Linked DNA regions of Homo sapiens: regions 1 and 3 are each linked to region 2. The links come from fine-mapping of genetic effects on plasma protein levels. A gene starts in region 2. Each other region holds a variant in brackets. All regions are shown on one strand. Distances are between the middles of the regions. Region 1 overlaps ADAMTS16 (ADAM metallopeptidase with thrombospondin type 1 motif 16). Region 2 holds the start of ADAMTS16 (ADAM metallopeptidase with thrombospondin type 1 motif 16). Region 3 overlaps ADAMTS16 (ADAM metallopeptidase with thrombospondin type 1 motif 16).

Evidence for each region. A credible set is the group of variants that fine-mapping cannot tell apart. PIP is the posterior inclusion probability: the model's chance that the variant is causal. Protein levels are from antibody-based Olink assays in UK Biobank. Linkage for the fine-mapping came from a reference panel and not from the study's own genotypes, which makes the PIPs less certain.
Region 1: its variant is the best candidate, but not a certain one, in a credible set for the plasma level of the ADAMTS16 protein (UK Biobank, PIP 0.62).
Region 3: its variant is the best candidate, but not a certain one, in a credible set for the plasma level of the ADAMTS16 protein (UK Biobank, PIP 0.51).

The regions. Positions count from the first base shown.
Region 1 is chr5:5,153,083-5,155,847 of GRCh38, reverse strand. The region is part of intron 3 of ADAMTS16 (ADAM metallopeptidase with thrombospondin type 1 motif 16); the gene reads right to left. All of the region lies in intron 1 of ADAMTS16-AS1 (ADAMTS16 antisense RNA 1), which reads left to right. Among named protein-coding and RNA genes, the nearest start is that of ADAMTS16, 14 kb to the right of the region's middle. The variant A/G (reference allele first, on the strand shown) is at 1,503.
Region 2 is chr5:5,139,130-5,141,894 of GRCh38, reverse strand. It overlaps ADAMTS16 (ADAM metallopeptidase with thrombospondin type 1 motif 16), which reads right to left and starts at 1,565. Exons shown (of 23, transcript NM_139056.4): 1 at 1,356-1,565; 2 at 1,129-1,231. The coding sequence starts at 1,427. It overlaps ADAMTS16-DT (ADAMTS16 divergent transcript), which reads left to right and starts at 1,841. Exons shown (of 4, transcript NR_109915.1): 1 at 1,841-1,939. RefSeq lists an enhancer at 1,793-2,359.
Region 3 is chr5:5,194,560-5,197,324 of GRCh38, reverse strand. All of the region lies in intron 8 of ADAMTS16 (ADAM metallopeptidase with thrombospondin type 1 motif 16), which reads right to left. Among named protein-coding and RNA genes, the nearest start is that of ADAMTS16-AS1, 20 kb to the right of the region's middle. The variant T/C (reference allele first, on the strand shown) is at 1,648.

The sequences.
Region 1 (2,765 bases), 14 kb before region 2:
CCCCTGTGGACTTCTTGTCAGCTCCTGTGGACTTTCTGTCTGTTCCCTCACTTCCTGTTTTTCCCAGGGGTGGACTTCCTGTTTGTCCCCAGTGGGCTTCCTGCCTCCTGTTCCTGTCATTCTCACTTCACCCTTGCTGTGGCAGATCATTCCAGTTGCAGCCGCTGATTCTAGTTTGTAGCTTACTTAAAGAACCAGCTACACTGTTCTCCCTCAGAGTCCTAGCACCAGCTAGCTCCTACTACTAAGGGATTTGAGGCCCAGCTCCAAACGTCTGAATTTTGAAAATCCCAAACTCTCCCCTTAGTTTCTTCAGCCCCAGGGGCAGTATATTCTTGTAGTTGTTGTCTAGGGTGCTTTGATATTCTCTGTTTAATTTTTCAGTACTCAAATGCCTACATAATGCATTGTATTAATTCTCTCTCTTCAAATAATTTGTGTGGTTTCTGTCTCCTGACTAGACTGTGATTGATACAGTTAATAATAAATGCCAAACAGAAAAATAAAATAGGGATAGGAAGTGGGAAACAGGGATAGGAATGAAACAGGGACTGGGCGAGTTTAGATGGGTGGGCCAAGGAAGCCCTTAACAGACTTCCTATCTGTTCCTTGTGGACTTCCTGTCTGTCCCAGTGGGCTTCCTGTCTAGACCCAGTGGACTTCCTTCTTAAAAGGTAACATTTAAGGAGGAAAAAAAGGTCATATCCATGTTAAGCAGATACAATCAGGCTGCTCTCGTTAAACCTCAGGCAAAGCAAGATCCTGCCTTCAAGAGCTTGGTTTCATTTGGACTCTTTTACTCTCTTTGTACTGGACTTTTGCTTGAGCAAGCACTCTCTTTAAAAGTAGATAGCAAGCACTCTCTTTAAAAGTAGATTTCAGACATCCTGTCATTCAGACAGTCCCAGGCCTGTATCATCCCCGAGAGTTAGTGGCCACAGGGATCATCTTCTGTTACACCCAGGGAATCAAGTTTCAGGTCTGAGCATTACTAAGAAGTCATCTCTTAACTCCAAACTATCCTTTTAAACTCTGCTTTGTGAGGCTGAGGATGGAACTCTACAAATCTCACTTCTGCTATGCCACCTGATCCCTATTTCATGATGATGAAGTAATATCATCAAGTGATTCTTGGTGAAAACATCGCTGGACAGAGAATCTGAAGACACGCACCCTAGACCTGTCTGAATTCCACCCGACTTTGTGATATTGCCCAAGTGACTCCACTCCACTTGGATCTCAGTTTCATCACTTCAAAAATGAGAGAAGTGGAACAAAACCATAGATTTTATAGCTAAATTTCTCTAGTCATCTAATTTTTGTTTACAACTAACAGTAAATTAATAGAAAAATCTGTTATCACTTCAAACTTGAAAGATTACCTTATAAAATATTATTTGATCTAATGAAATATATTCATTTCTGTTAATTTCCAAATTGCACTATTATATTTATTCTTATGTAATTAGCAGAAAAGTAAGAAATTATCTACACTTTCAATT[A/G]GTTCTTCACAACCACCTTAAATTTCCTAGTCACCACCAGCTTTGGCCGTTCTTTATCCAAAAACCTAATAGCTGTCTCACATGCCTCCCAAGACTGACATTTTCATCTGCTTATGCCATCAGCAGTCTTCTCAGATAGTGACACCTTTCTTTCAAAAATCATAGTATCTCTTCTGATCATACCCCCATGTGGGTTCTTCCTCTCTATTCCTATTTTATTATACTGGCTCAAGAACATTTTTTAAAGTCAGTTGAAAATCTGGCAGCATTTCAGACAGTTTCCTAGGATTTATTGAGTGTTTTAGAAAAATCTCTCAATGACTAGAATTTCCAGGGAATCCCTGGAGTTTGTGGGTAGAAATAAAACCCAGTACAATTCAAACCAGGGCCCTGAATAAGTGTCAAATCAAGTGAGAGTATAGACAGAACTGAGAATTACAACATTTACAAGTATTCCAACATTTTTGAAAACAATAATTAGACTTTAGGAAAAATGATACCTATCCTGTGCATTAATGCCTTGACAAACATCATGTTTTATGCAAGACGAATTAAATTTCATGCAGATTTTATGCCAATGGCAGTCGACAGATTATATATATTTTTTTCTAATCCAAGTACAGAACTTTCAGAAAATCCTAAGAAAAATCTATTCCCATCATATGCAACAGAAAACATTTTTAAACAACCCTCACTTAAAAATATTGACTAATGGAGTTTCTAAAAAATAGTTTTGTTAAAAACCCTAGTGATTGAACGATTTATTAATAAACTATACACTTCAAAAGAAAATTTACAGTGTTTGACATTAGTCATAGCAAGAAATCAGATGAAGTGGATTATAAAACTAATTTTACCTTTATTAATACCCAAAAATAGAGGTTGAGAAGATATAGGATTTCTGTTTGTAAATTGGAAATACAATCACTCATTACAAGAACAAAATGAATTTAGGTTAATGTTTAACAAGAACTTTGGGATACAAAGATGAATGATAAACGACTCTTGAAGAGTTCATAGTCTGGTATTAAAAAACCTGTAAATAAATAATTATGGAATAAAGTACACATATGTGCTTTAATATTTACACACTGCAAATTTAACATTACAAACTGCAAATGTGGTCACTAAGCTCAAACAGCATTAGATGCTGAGGAAGATGGCACTGAAGTGGAAACCAATGAGAAAGTCATTACCCCTTAGAGAAAGTTCAGGTGACACAATGCAAATTCATGTGCATGAGCTCACAGGTCCCTGTAAGGC
Region 2 (2,765 bases):
TTTAACATTTTATATCATTTGCACCTAGCGCCCCCTGGTGGTTCTCAAAAAGGTACTATGGTGAGCGTCAATCTGACACCGGTCACCTTATATACTATTTGTGTACTCATTTGGCAGGGAATAATTTCAAAAGTTAATGCATATATTAAGTGCTTGCCTTTATGTTATTTTATCAAATTGAAATAACTATACTGAGAAATTCTGAATTGTTAACTTTAATTTTCTAGATCTTCTGGAAATACATTGAGAGAATGAAACCTAGTTCTTCCTATAAAAGTCAATTAATATTAACATTTGATACGGCAATTTATTGTTGGTAACAATGCAAAATAATATTTATTAACTGTCATTGGATGGGTTCAGGTTAAAAAACCACCTAGCAACCAGTGCGACACACCTGCGTTCTCATTTACCTGATGCAGTATGAAGACACAGAGATCCCTTTCCATAAGACAGCAAATTTCCAAATGTCACTTGTAAGTGGCAGAAGTAAAAGCATGCATTGAAAAAGAATAAGACTTGCCCTCATGTCAAATTGTGGCCCAGGATATGAACGTTGCTGATGGTGTCACAATCAGCTGATTAGCCATTTCAGGCACTATTATGTTTGAAGTACGCCCTGATTGTTGGAGCATTAACTTTGGTATTGAGATGCTAAGCGCTTCTTTTATCTCCTTCACTGAGAATAAGCAACGATAGAGGAATATTTTAATCTATAAAGGAGGAGAAGGAGGAAAGGTTGGGGACGGGAAGGAGGATCCGAGGATGTAGAAGGGGACGGAAAAGAAAGTAATTTGCTCTTTATGACGGCTTTGATGCATACATTAATAGCTTTAGATTCTTCCTAAGCTCTTTAGAATAAAATAAAATGAACTTCCTCACCTTTTTCCTAATGTTATATCAATAACTCTGGCAAACCGTTTTGCCAGGGAATAAAATGTAAATATTGGTGGAAATCCACTCATCGGGGCTCGCTCATACAGTTAAAAAAAAAAAAAGTTCACAACAGCATCTTAAAAGTAGGGTTCCACAGAGTCGTGAACATTCACAGCACCTAATAAACCAGCGGCACGGAGATTACGAGCTGCTAAATGGCAAGGATTAGAAGCCCCCACCTCACGGACTTACCGCCCTTTTCCATCCAGCCCGGCCGCTCCGCGGGTGGAGGAGGACGCGGGACGCTCGGGCTCCCAGGCGCTGCCGCTGCGGGTCCCATGGCGCACGCAGGTGCCTGCGGAAAACAGCGGCGACATCGCGGTGAGACGGCGGGGTCCGCGGGAGAGGAGCCGCGGGGGACTCGCCTCCAGCTGTCCGGACCCGCGGTTTCCGCGCTGGTGGGAGCGCCCGGGACTCACCTGCTCGGCCACCTGCGCCAACAGCATCCACAGCGCCGCCAAGCCCCGCCATCCGCGCGCGCGGGGCTTCATCCAGGAGCGCTCCGAGGGGCTAGGGGCCACCGGAGGGTCCCCGGCCGGCAGCGTGCGAGCGGGCAGGGAGGACCCGACCCAGGCAGAGCGCGGGAGGATTCCCCACAGCGACTCCGCCGCCGCGCCGGGGTTATTACTGAAGCTCCGTGCGGCGCGGGGGGCGGAGTGGCAGCCGCGGCGGCGGGGGCGGCGGGAGCGGTGGGAGAGCGCGGGGCGGGCAGGGGAGAGAGGAGGGGAGGAGGTGAGGGCGGGGGGGTCAGAGGACCGAGGAGGGGAGAGTGCAGGGACAAAGAGCAGAGGGGAGGAGGCGAGGTCAGCGGGGCGCTGAGGCGGAGGCGAGCGGGGAGCAGAGGGAAGGCGGGAGACAGCGGGCAGCGCCAGAGGAGGAGGACGCGGGAAGATGGAGCTGCCCACGGCCTGCAGTCCGTGCCTCTCTGCCCGCGCGGGGACCACACAGTTGGAGAGGCTGCCGGGCACCGGCGCGGGCGATGCTCAGCATGGACCTCCGGCCGGTGCGCGCTCCTGCCCTGCCTTGGGGCTGGGGACTCGGCGGGACTCCAGCTACTGCAGTGGCTCCGCGGGCTCCCACCTCCGGGCCGCACCGGCGCCGCCAGAGGCCGGGACACCTGCAGCCCGCGGAGTGCGGTCTGGCCGCGCCTCTGTGCCCGGGCACAGCTGTGGGGACACTGGGTGCGGAAAACCGGGCGCCAGGACGTGGGAGAGCCGCGGACCTGCCTTTAAAGGCGCGTGCCTCGCTCTGGAGTTTGCGGAGCGATCGGAGACGGGGAGGCTGAGGAGGAAACTCTTCCCCCGCGCCATTTGCCCCGAGATGTGGCGGCGCTCCTGGCCCCGCGGTCACGGCCACCCTCAACTGGCCAGGCCGCGGAGGCCGGTGACTGGCTGCTGGGTGCAATCCCTAGGGAGGTCTCAGGGCTGCGGATGGGCCTGGGTCTCGGCCGCCACGGGGGTCGATCGGGCTACTGTGTGGACAGGGTGGCCAAGGAGGCAGCAGGTGTGCGGTCAACAGCCTGGCCAGAATTCTGCTGTAGCTGGATGGGGTGTGTGAGCGCGCGGGTGTACATGTGCCTGGGTGTGCGCGGGTGTACATCCACACCTGACTGCGTGTGCGCGAGTACACGCTGTGAGCCCATAGTGTGTCTGGAATTGGTGGGTTCTTGGTCTCACTGACTTCAAGAATGAAGCCGCATACCCTCGCGGTGAGTGGGTACAGCTCTTAAGGTGGTGCGTCTGGAGTTTGTTACTTCTGATGTTCAGATGTGTTCGGAGTTTCTTCCTTCTGGTGGGTTCGTGGTCTCGCTGGCTCAGGATTGAAGCTGC
Region 3 (2,765 bases), 55 kb before region 2:
TTTTATCATCTTCTACAATATTTTTTGAGTGATTCAATTACTATTGGGAAGTATTTGTTTATTATTAATGATATACTGAGAATGCTGAATAACCAGCCAAGTGTTTGTAGAGGCTGTATCACTTATTTCAGGCTGTTCAGACAGTAGTGGTTAAGGACATGAGACATTCTTAAAGGAACCATGGGCCAATGTTATCTGGATGGCAAAGTCTACCTTTGGCATAATGATGGCGACCACAGGTAAGACTGAGCTGCCCAGAGCCCTGACGCAGGCTTCATGCAGGCATCTGGAGAAGCACAGCTCACCCTCCATGAAAGATAGAAGGCTGAGCTGAAGACAGCAGTTGCGGGGAACTGAGGGAAATGGGCAGAGAAGAAAATGGGAGACAGCATGGGCTGTGGAGGTGCAGGGACCTCAGTCAGGGTCTTGGCTCTGTCATTCACAAGCTGCTTGATATTGGGCAAATTACTTGACCCCCCCAGCCTCAGTTTCTTTATATATAAAATGGGATAGTAAAACCTTCCTCATGAACTGTACAGAATGCCTGGGACTGTGCACATCAGAAAGGAAAATTCAAAACTTCTATTCCCTTCCAGGATCCAAATGTGGTCTTGGTCAAATCATATAACACCTAAGTGCCATTCATGGTTGGTATGCATATGTGCATGCATGTGTATGGGAAGGTCTGGCCAAATATTAATGGATTTCAAATACTTGTTGGACACAGAAACAGACAAGAAATCCTAAGAGGAATGACAACAAATAAAATTGGTAAGAACTGATGCTCTGACCTACCACAGCTACCCAGAGAGCAGCCTGACAATCCCCAGTCCAGATGATGGTTAGAGGGGCTGGCTTTCTCCAATATTCTTCAAGTCTTTAAAAATCACCACATGCCTCCCTGATGCACTGGAAGAGGCCCAGACTGGTGACAAAGCACAGCCACAAATGGGGTGGAGGCACATGTCATCATCAAATACTGAAAGGGGCATCTCCAGTGACTGTGGTTGAGCTGAATGGTATTTTCAAGCTAACTACTAGTGATACCAATAGTGACACCAATGCTGCTTTTTTTTTTTTTTTTTTTGAGATGGAGGCTCTCTCTGTTGCCCAGGCTGGAGTGCGGTGGCGTGATCTCGGCTCACTGCAACCTCTACTTCCTGAGTTCAAGTTCTACTTCCTGAGGTTACTCTGCCTCAGCCTCCTGAGTAGCTGGGATTACAGGAACCTGCCACCACACTCGGCTAATTTTTGTATTTTTAGTAGAGATGGGGTTTCGCCATCTTGGCCAGGCTGGTCTGGAACTCCTGACCTCATGATCCACCCACCTTGGGCTCCCAAAATGCTGGGATTAACAGGAGTGAGCCACCACACACGGCCCAATGCTGCTTCTTTTAAGACCTCCCTGATTGTCCCTGTGTGGTCTCTTGCAATACCGACAGCTCTCATTACTTGATATCTTGCATGGCATATCTATTTATTCTTTTCTCTTAAACTTTGGAAGGGCATAGATCACTAGTCTTTTTGTAGACTCCTACACAATGCCTTGCTCTCAGAATGCAAATTGTGCCCAGTGACTGGGTCCATAAACTTGGGGAAATGCAAGAGACAGACTGATGAATAATGAATACTTCTGCACACAGTTAA[T/C]ATATTTGTTTTATAGCACCTCAATGGTCTCAAGTGATAATGCAACTTGGCTATTTAAGCCTATTTTATATAAGTGGAATGTACAGCTCAAATAATGCAACCTAAATTACACTTGCATATATGAGCTACGGAGCATATAGTGCTCTATTGTTTTTGCAGATCGGAAACCTAGGTAAGAGCTGTTAAGGGCACCCTCCCTGGTCACTATCAGACTGTGGTAGCACTGTGCTGATCTGGAATCTGAGTCCCAGAGCCCTACCCATCAAATGACATGACTTCCCTTAGCAAATGGGAATTTTTCAGATGGATTCATGCACAGATGACATATTCTCCCAAATGCGCAGTTCAGCCCTTGGTGCATCTGTGCCAATGCTTCAGCACCTGCCTTAGCAAACCACATGTCCTGTGTCAAGTGATTTAACATAACCAGGAAACTCTCCTTGTACCACCAGCTTAATACAAATCCTGATTCAATCCCATGTACTACAGGAGAACACATATCTCAGTTCTGGTTCCAGTCTCTCCTCCTCTCTTTCCAACACAAATCCAAACACCTGTTCTTAGTAATTTCTATTTTTAGGTCACATTCCCTAGCATAAACTACATGATATTTTGAGATTTTTTTAAAAAGTGGAACTTAGGAGGACAGATTGGATGGACACTAACTGAAATCTTTATTTGAGTTAAAGGTTAGAAACCTATGAGTTGCAGGCATGGAGAAGTACTCCTCCATCCCAAATAATGTCCTCCGAATGTAAACAGAACTGAAAAAGTAAAATTTACCTTCGAAGCAGTATGTTTTACACGTTTTTTAATAGTAAAAGTCATAATAAATTCAGAATTGCTTTTTAATTCTTGACGTACAGAACTCAAAAATTTGACTCTGCTTGGAGCTCATTGATAAAAGCAGACCGTTGATGCTCTGATGTTTGCTCCATGCATCAAACTTATCATTCCTTCTTCCAAAAATAAAACTCACTAAATACATGAACTGAACAAATGTGTTTGTCTTCAGTTTAGTTCAACTAAGATACACGGAGTTTTATCATTGAGTCTTACACATCACAGCCTTTCTCATTTGAAGTGGTGGTCACAGCTAACAATTCATTTGAAACGTT